Regions from separate parts of the Homo sapiens genome. Here regions 2 and 3 are each linked to region 1. Evidence: fine-mapped QTL for protein levels in blood plasma. A gene starts in region 1. Each other region holds a variant in brackets. All regions are shown on one strand. Distances are from middle to middle.

Region 1 (8,422 bases):
GGTGTCCCTGAGGGGTCCCTTTTCTGCTTTCTCTGCTATGGTAAGCATGCAGACCTGTGATTTTCTAGCCAGCTTCCCTGTGCTTTCTAGGTTCTGTCCTTGCCCTGAGGTGTCTCAGATGCAGACCCTGGGTCCACTGCAGAGACTGACATTTTCTCAGGACATAGTGTCTCAGGCGTGGGGATGGCTCACAGGTACACAAACGTGGCCTGGGAGCTAACTGCTCCCTGGAGCATGGGCACTTGTTAAAACAGATTAGATTTCCTGGGCAAAAGGCAATGGCCTCGCTGGAGGAGCCACAGTAGAGGCTGAAAGACAGCTTGGGTAAGGGCCGAGAAAACATAGCCCACTTCCTCAATCTCTCTTGCCAACTAAAGGCTCATGAACACTTCTAAGGCAACATAGAAGCTGTTGCTTGTAGGAACTAAGTGAGCTGGGAGTACTAAATCCAGGAGGGCCTGGCATGTAGAGGTGGTCAGGTGACCAGCGGATCCCAGGAAATGGGTGGGGGACTGGAATGGCTTAGAAAAGTGGTCCCTTGATCAAGTAAGAGGGAGGTTTTCCTGCTGGACCTGAGTCCTGCAAGTATGCAGAGGGCATAAGGTATTTAAGCTGGAGGATCTGAGCCAAGAGCAGGCCTTCAGAGGAGTTCGGGGAAGTTTAGGCCCCTCTCTTCATCTTGGAGAGACAGACAGAAACGTTTGAATAACAAACCTATCAAGAGCACACAAAATTCATTGTTTCATTGGAAACAGCAATGGTACCCTACCCATTTTCGTTTTCACCAAGACCCGTTGCTTTTGGGCTAAACAACATGTGTCCCACCTGTGCTACTCTGCATCCATAGTTGCAAACATCTCTGCAAATTGGCCCCATTGTGTCCATATCTGTGCCTCTGGTTGGTGATATGGCAGTTTGTGCAAGACGTTGACTGCCTGCTGAGTTGTGAGTAGGATTAGATTTGAGTGTAGCACCCTCAGGGTTCTGGGGCCTCCTCCTGTGTACTTCTCTTCCTTCTAAGAGTCTCTGCTGTTGGCCTTTTCCACCATCAGTTGCTCTTGGCAGCTGTATCTCAGTTACCGGCTGCCTCTGGGTTTAGTTGCCATGGTAACCTCCAGTGGTGCAGCTGGACAGGCTTGAATGCAGGCAGGATAAATGCAGGATAAGGGTAGAAGATGCGGGGTTCAGGCTCCTGGTGTTCTGTCCTGTTACAGGGCCCTCTTCTTTAGCCAGTTCAACTAGATATTCATGAAGACCCTGGGGGCTCTACTTGTTACTGAAGGGTTGACCAGAAGTGGGAGAGATGCACCCCTGCTCTGGGGACCAAGTGCTGGGGGAGAGTGCCAGGTTAAACCTGGAGGCTGGCTGCCCATCCTTGCTCTAAGACTAGTCTATGGAGACCCATGAGGAGCAGCTGTAGGACTCCTGCTTTCTGTGGCTATATGGCAGACACACCTGTGTATGGTAGCTGCACCTGACAGCAATAACTTAAGCATACTCTGAGAATGACCCTGTATGGCAGATGCACCTGAATGTGTTAGGAGTTCCAAGTGAGGACAAGCCAGAGATTCATTACTTACCCATGAGGAATATCTGAGCCCCCATTCTGTCCTGTGGATGTACAGGGGATTTAGCCCCTTTGTTTTGGGTTAAATCAAAGTTGTTAGGGGGAGGGTGTTAAGTGAAAATGCTATATATACTGCATACTTTCTGCAGGTGGGGCAGTTCTCCTATCTAGCCCACCTCCACTGGACTGCTCTGTATGCAAATTCCCCTCAATCAAACCTAAGTCTTGTTTGCTGGCTCTGGATCTCTTTTGGCCTCTCAAACCTGGTGCCATCCCTACTGAAGTTAATGGGGGTCTGGTGGCCAGGTGCGATGGCTCACACCTATAATTCCAGCACTTTGGAAGGCTGAGGCGGGTGGATCGCCTGAGGTCAGGAGTTCGTGACCAGTCTGGCCCTGTCTGTACTAAAAATACAAAAATTAGCCAGGCGTGGTGGTGTGCGCCTGTAGTCCCAGCTACTCGGGAGGCTGAGGCAGGAGAATGGCTTGAACCCAGGAGGTGGAGGTTGCAGTGAGCAGAGATTGCGCCACTGCACTCCAGCCTGAGCGACAGAGCAAGACTCCATCTCAAAAAAGAAAACAAAACAAAATATGGGTCTTTCTTGGCCGGGCGTGGTGACTCATGCTGGTAATCCCAGCATTTTGGGAAGCTGAGGCAGGCGGATCACCTGAGGTCAGGAGTTCAAGACCAGCCTGGCCAATATGGTGAAACCCCATCTGCACTAAAAATACAAAAAATAAGCCGGGCGTGGTGGTGCGCACCTATAATCCCAGCTACTTGGGAGGCTGAGACACGAGAATCGCTTGAACCTGGGAGGTGGAGGTTGCAGTGAGCCGAGATCGCGTCACTGCACTCCAGCCTGGGCAACAGAGTAAGACTGTGTCTCAAAAAAACAAACAGGCCAGGCGTGGTGGCTCACGCCTGTAATCCCAGCACTTTGGGAGGCCAAGGCAGGCGGATCATGAGGTCAGGAAATCCAGACCATCCTGGCTAACATGGTGAAACCCCGTCTCTACTAAAAAATACAAAAAATTAGCTGGGCATGGTGGCGCACGCCTGTAGTCCCAGCTACTCTGGAGGCTGAGGCAGGAGAATGGCATGAACCCGGGAGGTGGAGCTTGCAATGGGCCGAGATCATGCCACTGCACTCCAGCCTGGGCAACAGAGCAAGACTCCATCTCAAAAACAAACCCAAACAAACAAAATGGCCAGGTGCAGTGCCTCACGCCTGTAATCCCAGAACTTTGGGAGGCTAAGGCGGGCAGATCCCTAGGTCAGGAGTTCGAGACCATCCTGGCCAACATGGCAAAACCCCGTCTCTACTGAAAATACAAAAATTAACTGGGCATGGTGGCAGGTGCCTATAATCCCAGCTACACAGGAGGCTGATGCAGGAGAATTGCTTGAACCTGGGAGGTGGAGGTTGCAGTGAGCTGAGATCGTGCCATTGCACTCCACCTTGGGCGACAAAAGGAAGACTCCATCTAAAAGAAAAAAAAAAAGCCAGGTGCGGTGGCTCACGCCTGTAATCCCAGCACTTTGGGAGGCTGAGGCGGGTGGATCACGAGGTCAAGAGATTGAGACCATCCTGGCCAACATGGAGAAACCCCATCTCTACTAAAAATAGAAAAAATTTGCTGGGTGTGGTGGTGCACGCCTGTAGTACCAGCTACTTGGGAGGCTGAGACAGGAGAATCGCTTGAACCTGGGAGGCAGAGCTTGCAGTGAGCAGAGGTCATGCCATTGCACTCCAGCCTGGGCGACAGAGTGAGACTCCTCTCAAAAAAAAATAGGGGCCTGGCAGAACGGTCGCCCTCATTCCTTCCAGATGCCTTTTGAATGCTCTGCTGGATGGGTGGTTGGCTGAGCCGTGGGGCATCTGAGAACAAGTCAGTAGACCTTCTCCAAGAGTATGCAATAAGGACTGAGCAGGAAAAAAGTTGGAGACTGCCTGTCCCCTCACAAAGTTGATGGTCTAACATTCTTCTCAGGGTCAAGAAACTTGTCCAGGGAGACACTGCTGTTTATAATCACAGGCCTGCTTAGCCTAGAACCTGGGCTGGCCTCTTCATCAGTGGGGATGAGGGCTCCTTGCTCCCAGCTGCTCAGCTCCCAGCAGCATTGAGCTCCTGGGTGTGTGCCAAGCCTGTATGGGAGGTGATAGGGAGGATTTTAATTAATACTGAGTAATTACCAGGCGGTGTTTAAGCATCCCAAATGCCCTCAGGTTCCCAAACCTACAGCTACTCTCTTCCTGGCTAGGCCTGTAAGGAGAGGGGGACTCTGCTCTATGCCCAGTGGGCCTTTGGTTAGCACGTAGGCTGTAGACTGGACATCCCAGGAAGGTCTCCACCTTTTTCAATACCCTTCCAGTTTGGTAGGAGGAGGAGGGCAATTTGGGAAATAGTCTGGCCTCTACAGTTCACCTATACCATCTTCCCAGGGGCAAAGGATAACAATGCCTGTGGTCTGCTCAACTTCATCAAGCAGTGTTGACCTAGGGCCCAGTGTAGAATGTGGGGAGAGGAATGGGCAGACCTAGATCTGGGGACCCTGGTGAAAGTGCTCCAGGAGGAACAGGCACAGAGGTCTTTGCTGCTTTTGGCCTTATTTCCCTTTCTCACTGTACACATTTGGCTGAGTGAACTCTTTCAAATTTATTTTTCTGTCTGTGGCTCTCAAATTATGATCTCATTCAAACGCCTACTTCCTACAAGGCCTTACCCGTTTGACATCTCAGAGACCTGACAGACTCCTGAGTTATTCCACCATTCCACCTGGCAGCCAAGGTGGTCTTGACTCCACCAGGCCTTTGCTCTTGTTGTATGTTCAGATGGCTTTCCTCCAGATCTTCCCCTGGGCGGGTCCTGCTCAGGCCTCGGGGCTAGCTTGAATGTCACGCCGGAAAGTGAGCCCTCTCTTGCCCTTCATCACAGCAGAATCACACTGATGTGCTCGTATGCTTCTGCTTCTCGCTGTGTCTCTGGTGCTTAGTAAGTGCTGGCCAAAAAGAGGCTCTTGGCATCAGCTGAAAGAATAATTTAAAGGTCTTCAGGACCAGGCGAGAGGCACTAATCGGTCCCCTTCATGGGTAGACCGTTCATTACCTAATTCCCTGGATTCCCTCCGTGAGCTGGCATCAGGAACACTCCACTGTCTCGACCCCCCGACAGCCCGAGGGGGCGGGTCATCTAGTGGCGCAAGCGCACTGAGGGCCGGTGCTAAGCGGGGACGCGCACGCCCGCGGTGGCGTGCGTCACAACCAGGACGCCTGCCCCGCCCGTCCAGCTCGCCTGCCCGTCGGTCCCCGCGGCGGCGGCGGCTGCCCAGTGACAGCGGCGGCGGTGCCAGGTCGGCCGTGGTAGCGTAGGGTTGCGCGGCCCGGAAACGCAGAGCCGGCCAAAGAGCGGCGCGACGTGAGCCGGGGCCGTGCGCGAAGAGACCTCGCGGGCGCGGAGCGAAAGGCCGGCGTGAGTGAGCGCGGAGACAGTGGCCGCCGGCGGCCCAACCCGTCTATCCCTTCGGCCGCCGCCGGCATGAGCCACATCCAGATCCCGCCGGGGCTCACGGAGCTGCTGCAGGGCTACACGGTGGAGGTGCTGCGACAGCAGCCGCCTGACCTCGTCGAATTCGCAGTGGAGTACTTCACCCGCCTGCGCGAGGCCCGCGCCCCAGCCTCAGTCCTGCCCGCCGCCACCCCACGCCAGAGCCTGGGCCACCCCCCGCCAGAACCCGGCCCGGACCGTGTCGCCGACGCCAAAGGGGACAGCGAGTCGGAGGAGGACGAGGACTTGGAAGGTAGGCTGTGGGCGGGGCCCTGGGGAGTGGTGCAGGAGGTCTCCAGAGGTCTAGAGGGGTGGCAGGGAGCCAGGTGTCGCGCCGCAGCCAAGCCGACCGCAGGCTGGGATTGGGAGCTCTGTAGCCGCGTTTCTAGCGTTTCCCTGAGACACCGGCGTGAGCCCGCGTGCGCCACTTCCAAATTGAGCTCCGCGATCCTGCGAGCCCTAGAGCGCACCGAGTGATTTGTCAGATCCAGCCTTGAAGGAAACGTGCGCGCTGTCGGCCCTGCTAGAGGATCCCTCGCCTTTGCTTAAGACCCTTCACCAGTTTTGGCTTCGAAGACAACAGCGTTCTCATCCAGTGACTTGTGTTTAATTGATAGGACAGTAAGTTTGTTTGGAAATAATAATTTTTTTTGAAAAGTTACTGTGAAAACTTTTAAGCATAGACAAAAGAGGAAAGGTGAGATGAATCCCTATATGCCATCACCTACATTTAACAGTTGCGTTTGTCACAAAGTTTCATCCATACCTTTTTTCTTTCTTTGCCGAAGTGTATTAAAGCAAATCTCTCAGGTCATTTCACCTCTGCTTACTTGAGTTTGTATTTCTTCAAACATGGTCCCTGGGAATATTCCTATTTTTAAAAACTTGGCCAAAACGATTGAATCAAATTTGGTGAGAGTAAATAATTATCTTGCCGGCCGGGGCAGTGGGCCCCTATAGTCTATACCAGCTACTCTGGAGGCTGAGGAGGAAATATCGCTTGAATCCAAGAGTTCGAGACCAGCCTGGGCAAAATAGACACCCTACCTCATTTTTGAAAACGAAAAACCTGGCCGGGCGTGGTGGGTCACGCCTGTAGTCCCAGCACTTTGGGAGGCCGAGGCGGGTGGATCACCTGAGGTCAGGAGTTCGAGACCAGCCTGGCCAACATGGCGAAACCCCGTCTCTACTAAAAATACAAAAATTAGCCGGGCGTGGTGGCGGGCGTCTGTAGTCCCAGCTACTTGGGAGGCTGAGGCAGGGAGAATCGCTTGAACCTGGGAGGCGGAGGTTGCAGTGAGCCAAGATCATGCCACTGCACTCCAGCCTGGGCGACAGAGCGAACTCCGTCTCAAAAAAAAAAAAAAAGAAAAAGGAAAAACCCAGTAACTATATTCTTGTTTAGTGGGTGGGTTGTAGCTTTAAAGGAAAGGATCCCAGCAGAGACTGAGATCAGGAGAGCAGCTTCATTGGCTCTACTTGCTGTGTCAGGATTTATCATTTAGTAATAGTAAACCTTCTCCAAGAGTTTGCAATAAACTCCAAGAGTACGCAATAAGGACCGAGCAGGAAACAAGTTGGAGACTGTCCCTCCCCTCACAGATTTGGTGATCCAAGATCATCACACCTTTTTTTTTTTTTAAAGTCAGGATCTCGCTCTGTCACCCAGGCTGGGGTGTAGTGGCACAATCAGGGCTCACTGCAACCCCAACCTCACAAGCTCAAGGTATCCTCCCACCTGGGCCTCCCAAGTAGCTGGGACTAAGGGCATGTGCCACCATGCCTTACTAATTTTAAGTGTTTTATAGAGACGGGGTCTCCCTGTGTTGCCCAGGCTGGTCTTGAACTCCTGGCCTCAAGTAATGCTCCTGCCTTGGCCTCCCAAAGTGCTAGGATTACAGGCATGAGCTACTGCTCCTGTCCAAAATAACACTTTCTACATCTGATCTACGCAAGAGTGTTAAGAAGCTATTACAGTTTCCTTGGTTGCTTCAACATATGCTTTGTCAATTTAACAGTAGAATTGGCCTACTTTTGAACAACTAAAATTTAACAAAACAATGAAACCATTTGAGAGGCCAAGTTAGGATCTTAGTGTTATTAGATCACACACACACAAAACTAGTTCTGAGTTGTATCTGGTCTGGCCCAGTATTCAAGTCACGGCAGGGAAGGAGTTAATTAACGGTCATTGCTGTGGGAGGTCACAAGCTTCAGTGCACTGGGCAATCTCCCTAAGTGTATTCATGCTAAAGGAGTAACAAGGGCTCTTCTGGGTTTCCCTTGATTTATTGCACATTACATCATGGGTTTTTGGGAAATCAGAAATTATTTTCTAAACTCTGCCACAGGTTTGCTTTGTGGTCTTGGACAAATTCTCAAACCTGTTTGATCTCAGATTTTCTTATCTTTAAGTTGAGGACAGTGACAACAATCTTCCAGGGACAAATTTGTTTTTAAAAGCTTTATTTCAGGTTTGTTTCACTGTCATCTCTGTAAATCACAAAGCAGTAACCTGCTTTGAGACAATTTTTATTTACACAACACTTTAGGATTTTAGAAATTAGCCTCAGATGAGTAAAAGTTTACAAGTTTTTTTTCTTTTTTATTATACTTTAAGTTTTAGGGTACATGTGCACAATGTGCAGGTTAGTTACATATGTATACATGTGCCATGCTGGTGTGCTGCACCCATTAACTCGTCATTTAGCATTAGGTATATCTCCTAATGCTATCCCTCCCCCCACCCCACAACAGTCCCCAGAGTGTGATGTTCCCCTTCCTGTGTCCATGTGTTCTCATTGTTCAATTCCCATCTGTGAGTGAGAACATGCGGTGTTTGGTTTTTTGTCCTTGCGATAGTTTACTGAGAATGATGGTTTCCAATTTCATCCATGTCCCTACAAAGGACATGAACTCATCATTTTTTATGGCTGCATAGTATTCCATGGTGTATATGTGCCACATTTTCTTAATCCAGTCTATCATTGTTGGACATTTGGGTTGGTTCCAAGTCTTTGCTATTGTGAATAGTGCTGCAATAAACATACGTGTGCATGTGCCTTTATAGCAGCATGATTTATAGTCCTTTGGGTATATACCCAGTAATGGGATGGCTGGGTCAAATGGTATTTCTAGTTCTAGATCCCTGAGGAATCGCCACACTGACTTCCACAATGGTTGAACTAGTTTACAGTCCCACCAACAGTGTAAAAGTGTTCCTATTTCTCCACATCCTCTCCAGCACCTGTTGTTTCCAGACTTTTTAATGATTGCCATTCTAACTGGTGTGAGATGGTATCTCATTGTG
Region 2 (8,422 bases), 1.6 Mb before region 1:
ACCCTGGGCATTTCCACCTGGCAGCCAGGCTGTGCCCTCCCTGCCCACCACCTCCAGCCCTTTGTCTGCCTGTCACCTCTGCCTGGGCCCTCAGCATCATCCCCGGGCCAACCAGTGCTTGGCTTTGTGTCCCAAAGCTGGTGGGCAGCGACAAGGTGGAGCCTCAGGCGTCCACATCCAGCAGAGTGACAGCCTAGCTGGAAGAGTCTGGCTCCTGCTCCCACTCTTCTGGATGACCTGTGCAGGGAGCCCTGGCTTTGTCTTGGCCTAGGTTCATATCCCGCCTTGCTGCCCAGGGACACAGGGAGTTGTCAGAGCCCATCCCTGGCATGGACAAAGCTGGATTCAGTTTGAGCTCTGCCATTTGATCATTGTGTGGTCTTGGGTGGGTGAGTCACCCTCTCTGAGCCTTGGTGACCTCGTCGGGGGAATGGGAATAATGATTGGGCTTCTTGGGGCTTTTTGGAAGCATGTGTGTGAAGCAAGGTGCAGATAATGAAATGAGGTCCTGTGGAAGAGGCTGGGCCATGTTCATAAGCACAAACACCTACCGCACCAATCCCTGAGTCCAGGGAGGCCCAGGAGAATCGAAGGCCTAAATCAGCTCCCCTGGCCTCCACTGCCCTCCTTCCTACCCCCACATCTTTGCCCTCTGGGCATTACTTCCCTTATCCCCTTCATCTGACCTTGCCCTTCAAGTTTTGCCTGGTGCTCCCTTTCCCAAAGCCCACCTGGCTTAGCCTAACCATACTCCTCTCCCATAGGGTTTATGTGCCCTTTGAGACAGCCTTGGATGCTCACTGTTCTCCTCTCATGTCTGCCTTCATCCTCACAGTCTTATGAGGCTGGGACTAGTAGAAGCCCCGTGTTAGGGAGGAGGTTATCAGGATTCAGAGAATGGTATCAGTTCTGTGCATTACACATGCAGCTCCTGGCTCTGCCCCATGGGGTACTGTGGCTGCTGGTCACTGTCTGCCCAGTCCCAGGTCCTACTAGAACCAGGAGAGTAAGCTAAGCCCCAGTCTCTTCAGGGGCCCTGGTAGAGTGGACAAGCACCCATTCCACCCCCTGGCCTTGAGGGCTTTCCTCCTGAAGCCCTCATGATCGCCAGGAACAGGGTCAGAGCAGGGGTCAGAGCCCACGAGTGGCAGGCCTAGGAAGTCTAATTTGGCCAGCACCATGGTTCCATCTGAGCATGTGATGCAAAAGCCACAAACAGGCCTTAAACAGGAGAGAGATCTGGCCCTGACCTGTGATGCCTCAGTACAGGTCCAGGCTCTGTCCCTAATGGTACAGTGGCCTGACAGTCCTTCCAGGCCTCAGCTCCCCCTTTGTATAGGGGGGCCAGTGGGCCCCTGACCTCGTTGTCTTCACCTTGAAGGGATGATCATCAAGGCAGACCCTGCCTGTGGTGTGTTTAGTAAGAGTGCCCAGGGCCAGTTCTCCATGTCCAAGGTCACAGATACCTAGATCAAGCACCTAGGTCAAGGTACCTAGATACAAGCACCAATATCCAGGTTGATTATGAGCTCTCTGGTCACTGAGTCATTTGTTTACAGGTTCCCCAACCCTCTGATGATGCTGGAGGGTGATGGACAGAGAAAGGTGAAGAATGAGTTGTCTCTGTCTCTTCATCAGACTCTTCTCAGGGATACAGAGGTGATGGTGCAGGTAGCAGTGAGCACAGTGGTAGTGGTGATTACCAGGAGACATGAGCACTAGCAGAGGTGACCACAGTGGGGTGATGGTCGTAGTGGTGACAGTGATGGTAAAGGTGGTGATGGAAGTGATGTTGGCAGTAGAGTTGATGGTGGTAGATGAAGATGGTGATGATGGAAGTGATGACTATGGTGATGGGGATGAAGGTAGTGATGGTGGAGCTGATGGTGATGGGAGTAACACTGATGATGATGGAGTAATATTGGCAATGGTGATGGGGAGGATGTTGGCAGTGAACATGGGGACATTGGTGCTGGTTAAGTGGGGGGAACAACAGTGATGATGGGGATGATGGTGAATGGAGTAGCATTCTGGTGGTGCAGGGATAATATTGATGGTGGGTGATGGGGGTGATAGGGCTGATGGGGGGCTCCCTGTGGAGTGTACCTCTGAGGGGCAGTCCTCCAGGCAGCCCTGTCCCACTCGTGGGCTTTGCCCTTGCTGGAGGCAGGACACAGTGGGGCTTGCTTGGTGCTTTTTTTCTTTTAACCTCCAGTGAGCACAGCCTTCTGGGTAATGAGATGCAAATTGACAGAAAAGACAATGAGCCAGCCTGCGGCCAGTGGGGCAGCTTTTAGAGTCAGGCTGATTGCCTCTGTGCCAATTTGCATGGCATTAGCTGTGCATGTCTTCTCCAATGGGTTCGTGTATTTCATTAGCGGTCACCTGGATGGCTGCATCTGACAAAGGGCAATGACCTGTGATCCCAGACCAGGGGGCAGGGGCAGAGCCACTCTGACTCTGACCTGAATAGGGCTCCAGGATGTGGCTACAAGAAGTCTGAATCTGTGGGGAAGGGCAATGGATAGGGGGTAGAGATTGGAGAGTTCTCATGATCGCCAGGAACAGGGTCAGAGCAGGGGTCAGAGTGCATGAGTGGCAGGCCTAGGAAGTCTGGTTTGGCTAGCACCATGGTTCCATCTGAGCATGTGATGCAAAAGCTACAAACAGGCCTTAAACAGGAGAGAGATCTGGCCCTGGCCTGGGATGCCTCAGTACAGGTCCAAGCTCTGTCCCTAATGGTACAGTGGCCTGACAGTCCCTCCAGGCCTCAGTTCCCCCTTTGTATGGGGGGGCCAGTGGGCCCCTGACCTTGTTGTCTTCACCTTGAAGGGATGATTGTCAAGGCAGGCCCTGCCTGTGGTGTGTTTAGTAAGAGTGCCCAGGGCCAGTTCTCCAGGTCCAAGGTCACATATTTCAGCCCACTGAGCAGACCTACCGTTTCTGTCACTGTCACCATTACTCAAGGTTATGCCTGGGATCATTCCTTGAGTGCCACCGAGGAATGAGGGGGCCTGGGCAAGATAACACCCAGGTGGTTGCCCAAACCCAGCCCTGACGCTCCTCCCTACCTCTGTCCATGGTGCTGAAAGTCTTCGCCCAAGCTGCTTGCTCTGGTGTTCCTGCTGCCTAGGTGGGCTGGGCTCGCCCCCACCCCCCTCCCCACCACGGCCCTTGCTCTCTGACCCTGCAACCTGTTTGACCCAGTGCAACCCACGACTCCATTCCACGTCCCTTCCCCAAAACAGGCAACAATGGGGCTAGAGGTTCTTCTCCACTACCCTCCACCCCCAGCCCAACCAGTGCCCCATCGGGCACATTTCAGGGCCCTTTTGTCCCCACCTCCCTCTTCACTGTCCCACTCCTTCTCCTGAGGTTGGGCCTAATCAAAGCTAATCAGAAAATTATGAGCTGTCTGATTACTGATTAGATTCCTAATGTTAATAGAGCTGAGAAGGGCCCGCTTAGGCTGTGTTTTAGGAAAAAGTATAAAAATAACATCATGGGAAGGGAGCCTGGAGGTTGGGCTGGGACTCAGGCTCTCTTGTTCTAGCTGGGGTGGGGTCTCACTCTCAGCTTTCAGGTGGGAATACATTCCCATGCAGGGGAGCTTCCTAGCACCCTAAATTCTTCCAGTGACGGTGCCATTCCAGGCAGCTCTTCCTGTAGAGGCCTCTAGCAAGTTCTCTGCTCAGGGCAGTGGGACTGAATTGCAGTGGGAAGAAGTTAGGTGGACTATAAAGAAGAACTTACTGCTGGCACCCCA[C/T]GTAAGAGCAGGGCTATGTCTGTAATGCTCACTGACCTCCTCAGGCCAGTTTACTGCACACAGTAGGTGCTCAGTAAACATGTGTTGACAGGAAGGAAGGAGAGTCATATCAACCTCTTCCCATGGGAACTGTCACCCTCCCATGTCCTGCCCCTGAGCCATGGTGGGCATAGAGGCATCTGAGAAGGCTTCTTGGAGGAGGATGTTGGGGCATGTCAGGAGAATGCACTGATCTGGCACCAGGGCAGGGGTGCTGAGCTCCCTGGGGACTCAGCTCCTGGCTGACCTGGCCAGATGAGGCACTCCTGTCCACCACCCTCTGCCTCTCATTCCAGCAGAGCCCCGGGGACTTCTGCTAATAACCATGTTATTACTGACCTGGCAGCAGCTGGGTGGGGCTAATGGGTAACATTTTCACAAGGTCCAGAGTGGAGTTGTGGTCCTGGAGAGCAGACTTCAGCAGTTCAGACCCCAGAGGCTGCCCCTCGCATGCCTCTTCGTGGAGAACACAGTGAGGCCTGTACTTAGATTCAGCCTCACCCCACTCACACCTTCACCCCCCACACCATCTTGGATCCCTATTCTCTGTCATCAGTACCATTTCTGACCGGGTTTCTGCCATCTCTATCCCAATGAAACCCAGGGCCTCCAAACCAGCAGATCCCCAAGGGCAACTCCTGATCCACCCCCTGACCCCTTGACTGTGATGGGAGCCTGAGGTCACTTAGCATTTCCTCACTGAGCTGGCTTGCCCAGCACTGGGGCCACACAGATCCATGAATCAAGTCCCTGCCTTCAAGGGACCACATCTGGGAGGGAATCAGGCACATGCAGTGATGGAAACCCCAGGGCAATTGTGGGAACCCAGCCCTACAGGGCACCAGGATTCCTGGAGGAGGCAGAAGAGCAGTGGCTCCTACAGGATGAGGAGGAGCTAGCCAGGGGAGGGGATGAGAAAGGACACTCCAGGCTTGGGATACAGCACAAACAAGGCTTTGGAACCGCAGCATGGCAGGAAGGCAAACTTCAATGTCAGTGTGGTAGAAGAGAGATGAGGTTGGCAGAGCCTGGTAAAGGATAATGTTAGGAAGGGAGGAGTGGTCCAGGCATCCGGGAAACACAGACAGGTCACAGAACTTGATGGGGAAACCTGAAGGTGTGGGGGCTGGGGCAGATGAGTTCATGATAACCAGCTTTGGTTGGGAGTCTGAAGGTGGGTTGCAGGGCTTGGGAGAGGTCTGGTCAGGAAGGCAAGGAAGGGGTCATGGGAGTAGGGCTGGAAGCCAAGCAGGGCTGCAGGGGGGTAATGAACAAGATCTCCAGCGAAGTTGGTGCTGAGGAGAAGGGCAGCCCGTTGGCATAAACTGAAGAAGAAAACAGGTCAGGCCAAGTTTAGAAGGCCCTAGAGAGAAGCTGAGTTTGGGGGAGGGGGAACCAGTCAGGAGGCCCCTGGAGTGAGGTAAGGGAAGGAGCAACCCAGAACCTGGAGTTGTGTCTCCAGTTTCCAAAGTGAGTCCCCATCCCGTTCGCTGTCTATGCCCTGCTCTCCATCCACATCCTCACAGCCCTGGGAGGGGCCCTGGCAGTGTTTTGGTCCCTCCCTGTTATAGATGAGAGATCAAGGTACAGAGAGGTGAGGGCAGTGCTCCCCAAATTATGTGCTGGGTCAATTGCCAAGCCCTAGGAACTTGGGTACCTTGGCCTCTGTGGCTGGACAAGGGAGGAGGGCACTGTCACACTCAACGACCACCCCCGTGCCCACACATATCTCTAGAATGGGGACTGATGAGGGGACAGGAGGCAGCACCATGCCCCACAGAGCACTCAGATAAGGATGTGTCCCTGCTCCCCTAGCCAGAGTGGCCGACGGCCCCTGGATGGGTACCCTCACCCAATGCTATCTGCATGGTTTTTTCTAAGGATGAGAGAAATGTTGATGAATTATGGATCATAATTTAGGGGGAGGGAAACTGACACAAAACTGGCAGAATTCTGATAAATTCCACCTGGGTTGCCAGGGACTGACTGACCTGCAGAAATGGGTAAGTTTCATGCTGGGGTGCCAGCTAGGTTGGTGGATTCCCACCCGTTTGAGCCCCTGTGGGATGGGGCTGAGCAGGGCAATATCTTGGAAAGAGCCCCAGCAGCCTGGAGTAGCCTTCAGCTCTGGGTTCCTTGAGGGTGAGGTGCCTTCATATGGCTGGGCTCTGAAGCCACAGTTCAAATGTGGACCTGAAGCAGTTTGTTGCATGTATTGGTTTATTTCTCATTGGGGCATCTCTTGCAAGTGCTCAACAGGAGACCTGGGAGCTCAGCAGGGGACTGGGTAAGGCAGAGACCTGCAGCCCTGAGACCAGACCTTTCCTGCAGCACGTGGTTGTCCAGGTCCACCCACACGTCCTCCTGAGTCAGCCTGCTGCTGCAGAGTAAAAATCTCTAGAGGGTGGGTTTCACTCCCATTTCCAGAAAACTGGTCTGTAAATTCAAGCTGGTTTCTGCAAATGCTCAGCCCAGCCACAGAGGCCCCTTGCCTCACCCTCTCCCTGTTCACACTGGACACATTTGGCTCCTGTCCCAGGACACACCCGACCTCTTTCTGTATTGATTGTGGTTCCAGTTTAAAGCAAAAAAGCAATGAAAGCCAGTGGAATACTTGTTACCACCTGTGAGTGCCACTTCCTTTACTTCCTTGGGAAGGGATCCCAGAGCTCATGGCCTTCCTCCTCTTGATGTTAAAACGTCCACTTTGGCCGGATGCAGTGGCTCACAACTGTAATCCCAGCACTTTGGGAGGCCAAGGCAGGCGGATGACTTGAGGTCAGGAGTTCAAGACCAGCCTGGGCAACATGGTGAAACCCTGTTGCCACATGGTGAAACTAAAAATACAAAAATTATCCAAGCGTGGTGGTGGGCGCCTGTAGCTACTCGGGAGGCTGAGGCAGGAGAATCGCCTGAACCCAGGAGGCAGAGGTTGCATTGAGCTCAGATCGCACCACTGCACTCCAGCCTGGGCAACAGAGCAAGACTCCATCTCAAAAAAAACAAAACTGAAAATAAAAATAAAACGTTCACTTTTTGGTAACATAACAGTAATAAGAGAGAGTGGGAGTTTTTTTAAGTGTCCTCTCTTGGCAAAATACAACATAGCAAGGATCCTTGGGAGCCCAGGATGTTCTGGGAAATTCTGTCTGACCTGAAATTCCAGCATCTGGGATACCAGGCTCCCCACCCTGGCTGGTCACAGTCATTCCCTCTGCTTCTCCATCACAGGCCACCCCTCATTTCTTCATATTTTTCCTAGGAAATTGAAGCACAGCCTGCCCCTTCCAGGCTGGACTGAGGGGGTGCAGGCACTGATTACCAAGCCTGTGACACCCACAGGGAGGTGTCAAGCCTGGACTTGGGTGGAGTGGCGGCTGCCCTGCTGCAGAGGGAGACCACAACTCGAATGAGTTTTTCCCTGTTACATGGATTCTGACCTTTTTTAAATTAAAAAAAAAATCCATTTTACTAATTTTTTTTATCAATTTGCAGAAGACGCATGAGTCCTGTGAGGGAAAAGGTCAGGGAGCCTGTTGCTGCCAACAGCGGTGATGGCCTCCCATGCCAGCCTTCCCCTGAGGCACCCTCTGTGCCAGAAATGTTTATTTTCCTTGCAGGCTTCTGTTTGCTGGAATTGTGGTCTGGGGTTTCAGTGTTTTTTGTTACTCTGGTGGTCATTTTATCTTTAAGGTGTAAACATGGTTAATACAAAAAGAGTAGGTTTGAACCTTACGATGTGCCATGGGCCAGGCGCGGTGGCTCACGCCTGTAATCCCAGCACTTTGGGAGGCCGAGGCAGGAGGATCACTTGAGGTCAAGAGTTCAAGACCAGCCTGGGCAACATAGAGAGACCTTGTCTTATAATAATTAGTTAATAAAAACTATAACAAATTTGTTAAGGAAAAAATAAAGATGAGACAGGAGCCAAGTGTGTCCAGCGTAGATGCGCCAAGGGGCGAAGGAAGGGGCCTTGAGGGACGGGTAAGGCTGGGTGCCCGTCCTGTCCCAGGAGGCATGCATGTCAACAGTGCACCCGACAGGAAAGCACAGCCACTGGCGTGTCTCCATCACCCTCAGCACGTAAGTCACGGACCCTGCTCGGCCCTCACTGCCCATCCTGCTGCATTTCTCTTCATCCCTCAGAACCCAGCAAAATGTGGGGTCGGGGCAAGACATGCCCTCAGAAGGTTGTAGTGAGTGAGACTGTGTCCATAAAGCTCTGAGCACATCATGTGAGGGCCACAAAGTCGCTGAGGTGGCCGTCATGCATGTAGCAGGCACTGTCTGTCCACACAAAGCCTCCCTCAGACCACGAGTGGTGCCAGGACAGGGCTGAGGGGATTCTTTTGGTCCCTGACTGTGGACGCACCTGCTTGGAGCAGGAGGTGGATGGACAGACAAATGTCTGCTCAAGGCCGAAGCAGCAGCAGCAGAGGCCCACAGGGCCAGGGCCCCCTAACCCCACCTGCACTTCTGCCCCTACTGTCAGCCCTGGGGCTCCAGCTCCCCCCTGGCAGAGCTGCATCTTGCTTCATTATTATGCAGATATTTTAATTATGCAGATATGTTTTTAGACAGTTTTAAATATGTATATTATTTACTCATTAGACCATA
Region 3 (2,998 bases), 82 kb after region 1:
TGTTTTGTTTTTGTTTTTTTCGAGGCAGGGTCTCGCTCTGTTACCCAGGCTGGAGTGCAGTGGCATGATCTCGGCTCACTGCAACCTCTGCCTCCCAGGTTCAAGTGATTCTCCTGTCTCAGCGTCCCAAGAAGCTGGGATTACAGGCGCCCACCACCATGCCTGGCTAATTTTTGTATTTTTAGTAGAGATGTGGTTTCACCATATTGGCCAGGCTGGTCTTGAACTCCTGACCTCAAGCGATCCGTCTGCCTCGGCCTCCCAAAGTTCTGGGATTACAGGCGTGAGCCACTGCGCCCAGCCCATTATTATACTTTCTGACAAAATGTATATATGTATAGTCCTGACAGCCTGAGGTGGAAGAAAGGTAGTTAACTTAGATACAAATAACTGCTTGCCCATTTAGGAATCTAAGACTAAGCAATTAACATTCTCACATGTATCTCCCTGCACATGTGTACACATATCTGAGAAGTGCCTGGTTTGGTTAACTGTCTTCTGATCAGAATCCATTACTTACTAAGCCAGGCACAGTGTTGTGTACCTGTAGTCCCAGCTACTTGGGAGGCTGAGGTGGGGAGATCACTTGACCCCAGGAGTTCAAAGCCAGCCTGGACAACATTGGGGGACCCTATCTCAAAATAAAACAGAAGGAATCCATGACTTGCTAGAGTCAAGGTATCTTTCATATGCCTGCCTTCCATCTTGCGTATTCCTCCCGTGTCTCTCCATTAACTTAAATCCTACCTCTCTTTCAGGTCCTAGACATTTTTGCTGCAAAATAATCTTTGATCACTCCTGCCTACTGTGATCTCCCCTTCTTACCTTGAAATTTATGTGGCACTTGTCTTCTGTAGTTTCATCAAGCACATTTCATATGCTCATATGCTGTCTTGAACTGTAGACTTTTTATTTTTATTTTATTTTTTTTTGAGACACAGTTTCAACTTATGTCACCCAGGCTGGAGTGCAGTGGCGCAATCTCAGCTCACTGCAACCTTAGCCTCCTGAGCTCAAGTGATTCTCCAGCCTCAGCCTCCCAACTAGCTGGGACTAGACAAACGCCACCATGCCCAGCTAATTTTTGTATTTTCTGTAGAGATGGGGTTTCACCATGTTGCACAGCCTGGTCTTGAACTCCTGAGCTCAAGTGATCTGTCTGACTCAGCCTCCCAGAATGCTGGGATTACAGGTGTGAGCCACTGCACCTGTCCTTGAAATGTAGACTTTTTATTCCTATGTATTTTGTTGTTGTTGTTGTTGTTGTTGATATTGTTGTTTTTGGGACATAGTGTCACTCTGCTGCCCAGGCTGGAATGCAGTGGTACAATCACAACTCACTGCAGCTTTGACCTCTCAGGCTCTGGTGAGCCTTTCACCTCAGCCACCCAAGTACAGACAAGTGCCACCATGCCCAGCTAACTTTTTTTGTGTATTTTTTCGTAGAGAGCGTGTTTCACCATGTTGCCTAGGCTGGTCTCATACTCCTGGGCTCAAGCAATTTGCCCACCTTAGCCTCCCAAAATGCTAGGAGTACAGGCAGTGAGCCACTGCATTCAGCCAACCTTCATATTTTGATATTTTATATTATCTCCCCATTAAGATTGTAAACTTTTTTAGGGTAAGAACAATCTAATTGTTCTTTTTTTAGGCAAGAACAATCTAATTGTTTTGGATTTTTTAAGTTTTTTTAAATCCTGGATTCTAAGGATTAAATGATTGTTTTATTCTCTCTTTTGGTGAGGTGTCTCTTTTTTTTTTTTTTTTTTTTTTTTGAAATGAGGGTCTCACTCTGTCACCCAGGCTGGAGTGCAGTGACATGATCTCGGCTCACTAGAGGTGTCTTTTTTGATATTGAACAGTGACAGTGAGCTCATAAATGTTTAGGTGTTTTCTGTTTTGGGTTCTATTTATGACCCATAGGTGGCACCTATTGAGTGCTAGATAGCAAGCAACAGCATGTGGGCATCTGGCTGGCTCAGGCTATAGGTCCTTTACTTCCAGTGATGACTCAAGATTGAAGTATCATTAAACACTTAATTAACACAGTAACTTACATATTCCTCTAATATTTGCTTTGGCCAGTTAATTAAACCATAGATGTTCCTGTATATAGGCATTTACTAGAATTTTCATATTCTTTCTTGTAGGACCGGGTGACTTTTAGAAGAATCATAGTGAAAAATAATGCAAAGAAGAGGAAGATGTTTGAATCATTTATTGAGTCTGTGCCCCTCCTTAAATCACTAGAGGTAAAGTGGCTTGAATAAGAATCTGTTCATGGGGATCAGGAAAAGCTTTTAAAACTATTCTGTTGTTAGGTTTTCAAATCATACTATTCTAATCCTATTTCTGTGCTGCATAGCTATTGTGACTTTCAATTAAGGTCTTTTCCTTTTATTTGTGAATTTGTTGTTTCAGGTGTCAGAACGAATGAAGATTGTGGATGTAATAGGAGAGAAGATCT[A/G]TAAGGATGGAGAACGCATAATCACTCAGGTGAGTGAGGGCTTTACGCAGCTCCTTTCCTGGAAGTCACCCCTGAAGAACTAGTACATCATTTATCTCAAAAACTTCTTGCCGGACGCAGTGGCTCACGCCTGTAATCCCAACACTTCGGGAGGCTGAGGCAGGTGGATCACTTGAGGCCAGGAGTTCAAGACCAGCCTGGCCAACATGGTAAAACTCCATCTCTACTAAAAATACAAAAATTAGCTGGGTGTGGTGGCCCATGCCTGTAATCCCAGCTACTTGGGAGGCTGAGGCGGGAGAATTGCTGGAACCCAGGAGGCAAAGGTTTCAGTGAGTCGAGATTGCGCCACTGCCTCCAGCCTGGGCAACAGAGCAAGACTCCATTTCAAAAAAAAACCAAAAAACCTTCTATGTTCTCCCACTGTTGGGAGCTCTTATTACCAGGTAATAGATCATACTTCAGAGGACTATTATGTAGTCCTCTGAAGCTTATTGACGTCCGTCTTACTGACACGTGCAGATCTCTTGC

Alleles and levels. Alleles are on the strand shown, and positions count from the first base shown. The strength of an association depends on the size of the effect and on how common the allele is.
As copies of C replace T in region 2, the plasma level of the protein whose gene starts at base 4,826 in region 1 goes up (moderate association).
In carriers of allele G in region 3, the plasma level of the protein whose gene starts at base 4,826 in region 1 tends to be lower than with A alone (moderate association).

The links. A credible set is the group of variants that fine-mapping cannot tell apart. PIP is the posterior inclusion probability: the model's chance that the variant is causal. The UK Biobank Pharma Proteomics Project read protein levels with antibody pairs (Olink). The fine-mapping took linkage between variants from a reference panel, not from the people measured, so its PIPs are less certain.
Region 2: its variant is the best candidate, but not a certain one, in a credible set for the plasma level of the PRKAR2A protein (UK Biobank, PIP 0.87).
Region 3: its variant is the best candidate, but not a certain one, in a credible set for the plasma level of the PRKAR2A protein (UK Biobank, PIP 0.88). The variant lies in the coding sequence of PRKAR2A. If it changes the protein, the assay may bind it differently, which can mimic a change of level.

What each region holds. Positions count from the first base shown.
Region 1 is chr3:48,844,278-48,852,699 of GRCh38, reverse strand. It overlaps PRKAR2A (protein kinase cAMP-dependent type II regulatory subunit alpha), which reads left to right and starts at 4,826. Exons shown (of 11, transcript NM_004157.4): 1 at 4,826-5,365. The coding sequence starts at 5,104. It overlaps PRKAR2A-AS1 (PRKAR2A antisense RNA 1), which reads right to left and starts at 4,763. Exons shown (of 3, transcript NR_109997.1): 1 at 4,675-4,763; 2 at 4,292-4,595; 3 at 718-3,713. RefSeq lists a silencer at 4,684-5,013.
Region 2 is chr3:50,400,105-50,408,526 of GRCh38, reverse strand. All of the region lies in intron 3 of CACNA2D2 (calcium voltage-gated channel auxiliary subunit alpha2delta 2), which reads left to right. Among named protein-coding and RNA genes, the nearest start is that of TMEM115, 45 kb to the right of the region's middle. RefSeq lists a silencer at 2,962-3,162 and enhancers at 7,307-7,807, 7,808-8,308. The variant C/T (reference allele first, on the strand shown) is at 3,767.
Region 3 is chr3:48,764,502-48,767,499 of GRCh38, reverse strand. PRKAR2A (protein kinase cAMP-dependent type II regulatory subunit alpha) reads left to right here. Exons shown (of 11, transcript NM_004157.4): 7 at 2,151-2,252; 8 at 2,422-2,496. Among named protein-coding and RNA genes, the nearest start is that of IP6K2, 49 kb to the right of the region's middle. The variant A/G (reference allele first, on the strand shown) is at 2,468.